Linked DNA regions of Homo sapiens: region 1 is linked to region 2. Evidence: fine-mapped expression QTL. A gene starts in region 2. The other region holds a variant in brackets. All regions are shown on one strand. Distances are between the middles of the regions. Region 1 overlaps SKIC3 (SKI3 subunit of superkiller complex). Region 2 holds the start of FAM81B (family with sequence similarity 81 member B).

The links. PIP is the estimated chance that this variant, and not a neighbour inherited with it, causes the effect.
Region 1: its variant is the best candidate, but not a certain one, in a credible set for the expression of FAM81B in cerebellar hemisphere (GTEx, PIP 0.70).

What each region holds. Positions count from the first base shown.
Region 1 is chr5:95,509,703-95,515,087 of GRCh38, reverse strand. SKIC3 (SKI3 subunit of superkiller complex) reads left to right here. Exons shown (of 43, transcript NM_014639.4): 26 at 165-233; 27 at 1,443-1,517; 28 at 2,470-2,611. Among named protein-coding and RNA genes, the nearest start is that of SKIC3, 43 kb to the left of the region's middle. The variant T/G (reference allele first, on the strand shown) is at 2,847.
Region 2 is chr5:95,388,332-95,393,716 of GRCh38, reverse strand. It overlaps FAM81B (family with sequence similarity 81 member B), which reads right to left and starts at 2,351. Exons shown (of 10, transcript NM_152548.3): 1 at 2,204-2,351; 2 at 820-923. The coding sequence starts at 2,327. LOC105379089 (a long non-coding RNA gene) reads left to right here and starts at 2,545. Exons shown (of 3, transcript XR_948586.1): 1 at 2,545-2,647. RefSeq lists an enhancer at 334-1,191.

The sequences.
Region 1 (5,385 bases), 120 kb before region 2:
TAAAACACTGCTTTAAGCATTGCTAATTATGCTTAAACAGTGAAATTTTATGTTCATACATATTTATGATGAGAGGTTTGACTTATTTTATGCTTTTTAAACATAAGCGGTTTAATAAGTTTATAAAATGACTTGCTGTAATATTTTTTGCCTTTTTTTCCTAGCAAGCTCATGAGGCTTTCAAAATGGCTCAATCCCTTGATCCATCTTATTTAATGTGCTGGATTGGACAAGTAAGAAATATAACATATAGTTACTAATAAGCTTGTTGATATCAATAACTGACTAATATGCATAACAGTGATAATAATGGTAACGGATAGCATTTGAGGGCTTACTTTGTGCCAGTCACTGTGCTTAGCTCTTTGTATACACTATTTCAGTTAATCTATCAATCATCAATTCTTTGAGATATGGTTGATGTTATACTCTCTTTATAGTTGTGGAAATAGAAACTCAGAGCTCCTAAGTGTCATTCCTAAGGCCACGTAGCTTGTAAGGATTTAACTCTGACTTGGGGGGCCTTTGAACACTTACCAGTCTGACATTACTGTGCCTAAAAAATAAACCCAGAACTCTATTGTTTAACTCACATGTACAAAGAAAATGCACATTTACAAAGATCATTTTGAATATTATGTTTCTGTAAAATCTTCATATTTGGTTTGTCACTTGTTTATGAGTGTTCTTTCCTCCCCCAAATTCAGATTTTTGTACTGCCAAATAGGAATCAGGATACTTTGTTACTAGTCTGAGTCTGTTACCTACTGATTTTTTTTTCTTTTTTTACCTTAGCATATCACTTTTCTGGATTTTAATTTTCTCACCTGAAAAAGAAGGGGATTAGACTGAGTGGCCTCGAAGTTCTTGCCTGGTTGAGAAATTATAATGAATTAGTAAGCAGTCAGTTGCTTATCAGAAAATTATTAATCAGGGTTTAGAGATCTTTTGTTGTATTTTAGACTCTTGGGCCTAATTCTAGTTAATTGGTGAAGCAAGCAGAGCTAGAAAGGCAAACTCCTGTTCCCATTCACTGTGGTAGCATTTGGGAGCAGTGGCGTTACTGTGCTAGCCTCTGTGTCAGCCATTGAACCCAGGGAGTCCAAGAATTTGCATTCTAACTGCTCCCAAGTGATGATTATGAGGCTGGTCCAAGGGACCTCACTTCGCGTAGTACTGCTCTAGCTCAGTAGATCTTAGATGATTATCAGAATCACTTTTTAATTTTTATTTTAAAAGTATTTTTGGTTTTAAAAATAATTTATTTTAGCAGGTAACTGGAAGATTTAGTTAAAATAATAACAATAGAAGTGAAAAACTTAGGTTAACTTTGCTTTTAAGCTCAGCTAGTAAACCTTTGGTTCTTCTAGACAGTTTCATTTTGTATTATTATTGTTACTGTCTTTTAAACACATTAAGAGTCTGTTTTTTTCCTTTTATAGGCTCTTATTGCTGAGGCAGTTGGAAGTTATGACACCATGGATCTCTTCAGGCACACTACAGAACTAAATATGCATGTAAGAATCTGAACATTCTTCTTGAGGATTCATTAATGAGAAAAGTGTTATCCTTGTTAAGGGAATGAATAGATATTGGGCTAGGCATAGTGGCTTATGCCTGTAATCCCAGTGATTTGGGATGCCAAGGCAGGAGGATTGCTTGAGGCCAGCCTGGACAATATAGCAAGACCCTGTCTCTTAAAAAAAAAAATTAAAAATTAGCCAGGTATGATGGTGTATACCTGTAGTCCTAGCTACTCAGGAGGCTGAGGCAGGAGGATTGAGTCCTGGAGTTTCAGGATACAGTGAGCTATGATCATGCCATTGCACTCCAGCCTGGGCAACAGAGCAAGATTCTGTCTCTAAGAAAAGGAAAAAGAAAATGAATAGATAGTGGTATTAGATGTTAATGACATCAGTTGTTTTTATTCTTTATTCTTTCTTAGAAACAGATTAGTTTTCTCGAATTAAAGAACTACCATTTTTCTTTTTTCTACAACTTTCAAGAGCTGGTGAAGAAATGATGTTTAGATTTAATAGATATAGTAGCAGTCATATATTAATAGAATAGAAACTGAGACTCTAGGAAAAAGATAGACATGAGATAAGGAGTAGGCATGGTAGACATTTCTAGATTATTTATGAAAATGTTGTAGAATTCATTTTTTTTTTTGGTCTGACCTTTGGCAATGGTGCTGAGGAAGGGAAAGCCAGCCCATCAGGCAAGGCTCTGTTTTCTGCATTTTATCCCGTTTGATTCTTCTCGTTAGGATTGGAGCAAATAATTTCAATATGTTCTTCGCTGTGTTTTATCATAGTGACCCTTCATTTAAAGGTACTTTTAACAATTGACTTAAAGAACACTGAGATGTGATATTTATTGTATTGAAGTGCATTGTTTTACTTCTTATTATAATTTTTATTGACACATTTATTATCCTATGTCTGCTTAACGTTGGCTTTTTTAAAGACTGAAGGAGCATTAGGTTATGCGTATTGGGTCTGCACAACATTGCAAGATAAAAGCAACAGAGAAACAGAGCTGTACCAGTACAACATCCTCCAGATGAATGCTATTCCAGCAGCACAAGTTATTTTGAATAAATATGTAGGTAAGGTACCTGTTATATAATAGCAAGATATTTGAGCAACTATTGAAATAATTTAAATAATTTTTAAAATTAATTCATGTCAAATTAAATATTGGTATTCTTTAAGACATGAATTTGCCTTCTTTTTGCAACAGCGAAGCAGTCTTTACTTTGTAAACTTTAATAAAGGCTTTTGAAGAAAGATAAAAATTGTTACCTAATGATGCAAGAAAAAAGTAATTTCCTTGTTATAGTG[T/G]AGAGTGTATTAGGCTTTAATACACTCTCCACTATACACTATACACTAGAACAGTTGCTGCTGTTCTCGCTTTGCCTTTAACTTTCTCTGCAGTCTTAGGCCAAGTGTTTTACCACCCTTAACTTCTGTTTACTCCCTGGATAGTGGATATAACAATACCTGGATTGTAGAGTTGTGAGAACTAGATGAGATAATATAAATGAAGTGCCAAACCCAGTGCCTTTAGCTTCCCCACTTAACACCTGATTTTTCTTGAAGATATTGGAAAGATACATTTAGGTTTAGGAAGTTGACAGAGTGGTGAAATTTTATTAACCATCTGTTGTAATAATTCCGTCTTTTTTAATAAAACTACCATTGGGTTTTAATCTCTGCTCCACCACTTAGTAGCCTTGACTGAAACCTTGGGCATGCTACCAAAATTCTCAACAGGAAAGTGTTTATTGCTTAGTGTTTAAACAAGATGATTTGTACAAAATGTTATGCAGGGTGCCTGGCATATCCTAGATGCTCAAGAAATGTTAGTTTCATTAACTTTTGACAAAATGCTAATAAAGAAGCAAGGAGTTTAAGCAAGAGTACTGAAAACAGTAAATATTGGCAGTCAAATAATATAAAGAATCAGATAAATTGTGAAAAACAGGAGAGAAAATGCCTCACTGTAGATATTGTGGGGATTGTGGCACTCTGCATGCATTTAGCCTGAGGCACTAGACTAGGCAATTAATTTACAAACATCAGCACTTGGGGGGGTTTGCCTTAGGGTGGGTGTGGCATGTGAAGGCATGGATCTCCTCATGCTTATTTTGTATTTATTTATTTATTTTTTGAGACGGAGTCTCGCTCTGTCACCCAGGCTAGAGTGCAGTGGCGCAATCTCGGCTCACTGCAACTTCACCTCCCAGGTTTAAGCCATTCTCTTGCCTTAGCCTTCCGATTAGCAGGTAGGCGTTACAGGTGTGTGCCACCACGCCCGGCTAATTTTTTGTATTTTTAGTAGAGGTGGGGTTTCACGGTATTAGCCAGGATGGTCTCAATCTCCTGACCTGGTGATCCACCCGCCTCGGACTCCCAAAGTGTTGGGATTACAGGCGTGAGCCACTGTGCCTGGCCCTCATGCTTATTATGACTCAATTTTGTTGACTCTTTCTTTTGTGACTTTAAGGATTTTTCAAGAATAACTTTGACTATTTGATTTTAACCTTAGTTGTTGATCTTAGAACCTAGCAATCACAAAAGATATGGTTACAGTGTACTTTGTTAAATAATCTAAAGGATTTGAAGGCTTACTTTCCACTACTACTTTTAAGTACATTAGATCAGATACATTTCTTTTTCTACATTTTACCTTCATAGATAGGTAATCACCCAATGGGTTCACTTTGCCCGCTGCCTAGACAGAGCCAATATATCAAGACAGGGGAATTGCAATAGAAAAAGAGAAATTCATGCAGAGCCGGCTGTGTGGAGGACTAGAGTTTTATTATTACCGAAATCAGTCTCCCCGAACAAGCATTTGGGGATCAGCATTTTTAAGAATAATTTGGTGGATGGTGGTGGGCAGGCAGTGAGTAGGGAGTGCTGATTAGTTGGGTTGGAGATGAAATCATAGGGAGTTGAAGCTGTCTTCTTGCGCAGTCAGTTCCTGGGTGGGGGCCACAAGATCAGATGAGCCAGTTTATCAATCTGGGTGATGCCAGCTGATCCATCAAGTGCAGGCTCTGAATAGTGATGTTATCCCCAGGAACAATTTGGGGAGGGTCAGAATCTTGTAGCCTCCAGCTGTATGACTCCTAAACCATAATTAATCTTTTGACTAATTCAGTAGTCCTGCAAAGGCAGGTCTAGTCGCTAGGCAAGAAGGGGGTTTGTTTTGGGAAAGGGCTGTTGTCATCTTTGTTTCAAACTATAAACTATAAACCAAGTTCCTCCCAAAGTTAGTTTAGCCTGTGCCCAGGAATGAACGAGGACAGCATGGAGGTTAGAAGCAAGATGGAGTTAGGTTGGATTTCTGTCACTGTCTCAGTTATAATTTTGAAATGGTGGTTTCAGATACATTATGTTTTTTGACATTAAAATTTCAAAATACTGCACCGAAAGTACCAAACTTACCTTCTGTTTCTAGTGTACAATACTGACTTTGTTATTTTTTTTAAATACGTACATGTTGGAACAGAACCGCCAAGAGAAATTATTGCTAAATTTAATCACAGGAAGGCTTAAGTAATTAGCCAAAGAACTGAATATCTTTATAAATCTCATGACTGGTTTTAACAAGAACTATAATTTCAAGTTATTATACCTTTGGGCATAAAATGTTTAAATTCTAAAATACAACTAAAAATCAAATATAACTATTAAACATTATTCAGTAATTAGAGTTAATAAAGTTTTTACTGACATTATATTCAAGATAAAATCAGGCCACTATTCTTAACAGTGTGAGTGATCTCAAGAGGTAATCTGATATTTAAGATACTGAAAAAATAAAACGAATATTTTGTTAATACCATCAGTAGGCATATTTAAAATGAAGATA
Region 2 (5,385 bases):
CATTAGTTACCTTAAGAAGCTGAAACCCTTATTATGGAAAGAAATTAAGATGACTATTTTTTATAGGTGAGGAGCTTCAGGATCAGAGAAGTACGGGACTTGCCCAAGATCATGTAGATGATGATGATAATCATACTGTAGCCCTTCCTACTTGCTAAGCACTTACTTAAGTGACTCATTCAAACCCACAATAACTTTGTATGATAAGCCTAATTCACCCATTTTACAGAAGAAGAAACAGAGGTTAAGTAATCATTCCAAAGTCCCACAGCTAGTATGTGGTACAGCCTATTATATAATACATACCAAAAATCAATGTTTGATATTGTGCTAGTGCTTTATGTAACAAGTGACTGCATCTGCCTCTTGTTATGTAAATTACAAGGTGTTAAGAGAAGTGCAAAAAAAGTCTAAAAACACTGCTTTAAAAAATGTTCTTTTTAACGGAGAAGATACGACAAGTTCTAATAAAGGAAACATTCTATTTAGCTATACCGGTTTTCATGTTAGAGATAAAGATAAAGTCTGCACCTTGAGTTTATCATGGTTCCTTTTGAATCATCATAAAACATACATAATGATCAACTTAAAAGAATTTTAGCCCCATATATTAAAAATCAGTCTAATTAATGAAATTGTAAATTGAGGTCATTTTTCTTTTCAGCTTGTGTTTTCAGCAGCCATTTTGCCAAGACAGAACAAACAGGAAATGTGGGAGAACTATTCTTCCAGAACTTCTTAAACTCTCTAAGCACTCTAAACTTTAAAGAAGCTGAGCAAAGTATTCTACTTTTAATGTGAATATTGAAAAGTACTTGCTTTCTTTTCTTGGTTATTGTCTGAGCCAGGAAGGGGGCCATCAGGTTCAACTGGCTGTTCCTCTGCAGTCGCAGTTGGAGAGGCACTTTTGTTTACATTTGTATCTAGGTAACCAGAATGCTGAATCAGGTCAGGAACTATGACAAGTGAATTTTTGCAGTGCTGCTAATTTTTTTTTAATTGAGGGCAGTTTCTGTACATATAGCTTGGCTTAAAGGGAGGCTTTCAATTTGCTTTACATTTCCCCTCTCCTCACTTATCCCAATTCTCCCCCATCCCCCCATAACATCTATAGTTAGCTAGAAGAGCATTTCTTTACAGATACTTCTATAAGACCTTTAGAAACTTTTTTAGGATCAGACAGCTCTAAAATAATCAGGAATGTATTTTTTTTAAATTATACTTTAAGTCCTGGGATACACGTGCAGAACATGCAGGTTTGTTACGTAGGTATACACGTGCCATGGTGGTTTGCTGCACCCATCAGCCCATCATCTACATTAGGTATTTCTCCTAATACTATTCCTCCTCTAGCCCCCAACCCCCAACAGGCCCCAGTGTGTGATGTTCCCCTCCCTGTGTCCATGTGTTCTCATTGTTCAACTCCCACTTGTGAGTGAGAACATGTGGTGTTTGGTTTTCCGTTCCTGTGTTAGTTTGCTGAGAATGATGGTTTCCAGCTTCATCCATGTCCCTGCAAAGGGACATGAACTCATCCTTTTTTATGGCTGCATAGTATTCCATGGTGTATATGTGCGGCATTTTCTTTATCCAGTCTATCATTGATGGGCATTTGGGTTGGTTCCAAGTCTTTGCTATTGTGAACAGTGCTGCAATAAACATACGTGTGCATGTGTCTTTATAGTAGAATGATTTATAGTCCTTTGGGTATATACCCATTAATGGGATTGCTGGATCAAATGGTATTTCTAGTTCTAGATCCTTGAGGAATCACCTCACTGTCTTCCACATGGTTGAACTAATTTACACTCCCACCAACAGTATAAAAGCGTTCCTATTTCTCCACATCCTCCCCAGCATCTGTTGTTTCCTGACTTTTTAATGGTTACTATTCTAACTGGCATGAGATGGTATCTCATTGTAGTTTTGATTTGCATTTCTGTAATGACAAGTGATGATGAGCTTTTTCTCGTATGTTTTGGCTGCATAAATGTCTTCTTTTGAGAAGTGTCTGTTCACATCCTTTGCCCACTTTTTGATGGGGTTTTTTTTTCTTGTACATTTGTTTAAGTTATTACTCTGTTGTGCCCAAGCCTTCTGAGGGTCTTCATTGGGATTCATTATTTTGTTTATATGTAATAAGAAACAGAAGAAAGATAGTGAAGTAGGAGAAATTTAGAGACCTCGAATAGTCCATAAGTACCTGAACTCATGATGCTTGCTTTTCCAGCTTTATTTTTTGTAGATTTGATATTTTTGAAAAACAATCTCTGTGATTTTTTTCTTTTTTCTGAGGAAGCCAATGTACCAAGGAATTGTAATTGCATCCTAACTAAGGTCTTCCTGTTTCTGGGGCCTCTTCCCAAGGGTGACTTAGTAGCATTGTGACTGCAGGAAGGATCTATGATGTCAGTGTGGCTGGCCCTCACAACTGAAGTCAGGAAATCCCTGGGATTTAGAAGCTTTGAATGTTTTCTGTAGTGCTCATCATCATACAAATCACTAAGCCTTTCACTTCTTTGTCTCATGGGGTGGGAAGTGGCCATTGTTATACTGATATTTCACACTCTTCTCCTGATTTCATCTTCACAGTTTGAAAAGTGACGAGTTATCATCAAGCTAGACAAAGAGGAAATGAAATGCTGCGGTATGCCCAAATCTTTCTCCAAGTATGTTAGGGAGGAAGCTAACTCTTCTAGGTTAGAAGGGGACTTCACAGATAGTGCAGCACTGATGAAAAGTGACATGGGTCAGAGTTTTACAGAAATGAAAATATTGAACTTTGCCTTTGTAGGGGAAATTTTGTTCAGTTATTTAGCCAAAAGGGGGTGGATTGTTTTAGCTGTAAAATGTTTGTCTGAGTTTTAAAATTAGAATTTGCATGTTTGTTAGTACTACTTGGCCTCCATATACAGAAATGATGCTTTGGCTAAGTTGTTGTCCAAATTATGGTATCAGATTTGCCTTGTTTAAAGGCACACAATGTTCAGGATGCTGAGTGACAAACTTTGATCCCACAGATAAAGGACACCTATGATTTGGGCTTCCATGCATATCCCCTAGTCCTAAGCTAAGCCCTTAAAACTCAAAGATGCAGTAGTTCATGGTTTGCAAGCAGTCCAAAAGGCTCATTATGCTACCCTAATCACCATTGTATCTAGTGCCAAGGGAGACTGACACACAGCAGTGACTAAGAGCAGGTGGCTACAGATTCTGAGAGAGTGGATTGGAACCCTGACTCCTCAACCTACCAGCTGTTTAGTTTGGACAAAATTACATCACCTCTTTAAGCCTCAACTTTCTCCTCTGTGAAATGAGCTAATAATATCGATCCCATAAGATGGTTGAGAGGATTAAATGTAATAATATACTTACAGCGCTCAGCTGAGGGCGGTGCCAGGAATCCACTAAAAGATAACTATTATTAGCGATTATTTCACAAGGTGCCAATTATCCAAGAAACAGTCACAAGCAGAGTCTGTGTGAGAAAGAAAAACTAGATTTAACCTTGCTTAACAACTTTTTAAGATTCTTTCTCTTCTTAAATTCAGCTTTTAATCCATGGTATTTGGTTAGAAAAATGGGCCCTACTAAAATGGACAATTTTGGTAGGTTTGTTCTCTAAACATAAATGGCTATTCAATTTTAACATAACAATGCACATAATATATATGTATATTATTAATGTCTGCTCTGGTTTGAATCTCTCCACCAAAACTCATGTTGAAATGTAATTGCCATTCTTTTTTTTTTTTTTTTGAGTTGTAGTCTTGCACTGTCACCCAGGCTGGAGTGCAATAGTGCGATCTTGGCTCACTGTAAGCTTGGCCTCCCAGATTCATGCCATTCTCCTGCCTCAGCCTCCCAAATAGCTGGGACTACAGGTGCCCACCACCACACTCGGCTAATTTTTTGTATTTTTAGTAGAGACAGGGTTTCATCGTGTTAGCCAGGATGGTCTCGATTTCCTGACCTCGTGATCTGCCCACCTCGGCCTCCCAAAGTGCTGGGATTACAGGCGTGAGCCACCGTGCCTGGCCTATTGCCATTCTAATAGTATTAGGAAGTGGAGGCTTTAAGAAGTGATTAGGTCATGAGGGCTCTCTCCTAATGAATGAATTAAAGCCCTTATTGTGGGAATGAGTTAGTTATCATAGGAGTGGGCTCCTGATAGAAAGGATGAGTTTGGCTTAGTTTATCTCTTTCTGTCTTGCATTCTTATTTCCCTTCTTGCTATGTTATGATGTAATATAAAGATGTATCCTCTCAATCTTGGACTTCCCAGCCTCTGGAACCATGAGCCAAATAAATGCCCAGACTATGGTATTCTTTTTTTAGACAGAGTCTTGCTCTGTTGCCCAGCCTGGAGTGCAGTGGTGCGATCTTGGCTCACTGCAACCTCTGCCTCCAAAGTTCAAGCAATTCTCATGCCTTAGCCTCCTGAGTAGCTGGGACTACAGGTGTGCACTGCCATATCTGACTAATTTTTGTATTTTTAGTGGAGACGGAGTTTCACCATGTTGGCCAGGCTGGTCTCAAACTCCTGACCTCAAGTGATCCACCCATCTCAGCCTCCCAAAGTGCTGGGATTACTGGTGTGAGCCACCATTCCAGGCCCCAGACTATGGTATTCTGTTATAGCAGAAGAAGATGGACTCAAATAGCTTCCCACTTGTCTAAAATGCATATGTAAAATCCTTCTCAGAAGTCAATAATCTTCATATATCTTTTCTAATCTAGGGCTAATAAAAGCACAGAAATTAAAAATGTTCAATTTCAATCTTTAAAGTGGCCTTATACTATAGTATATTTAATATAGATCTAAAGACATAATCCTGACATGGTGGTCAGTGATGGGGGATAGTCAGTGTTGAAGGTCATCAGACAGAAACGCTATGTGTTGTGCACTACACAACCCTCTGGGGCACTCATGGTAACACTGTAGATTTTCATATTTGTTACAGTAATTTTTCAGGCATATATCAAGAAAATATCTCATTTTACCAAAGAAAGTCAGGATAATTTTCTGACATGGAAGTAAAGGGTTTTGAGAAAGCGGCACCTATTTTTAACTCACACAAGGAGTGTACAGTGAGGCACTGTCAATGACCAACTGCATATATGATGGTGGTCCCATAAGATTTTAGTGGAGTGGAAAAATTCCTATTATCTAGTGATGTTGTAGCCATCATAACATTGCAGTGCAATGCATTACTCATGTGTTTGTGGTGATACTGGTGTAAACAAACTTGCTGAACTGCCAGTTGTATAAAGGTATAGCACATGCAATGCTGTACAGTACATAATAGTTGCTAATGATCATAAACAACTATGTTACTGGTTTATGTATTTACTACAGTATACTTGTTATCATTTTTTAAAATT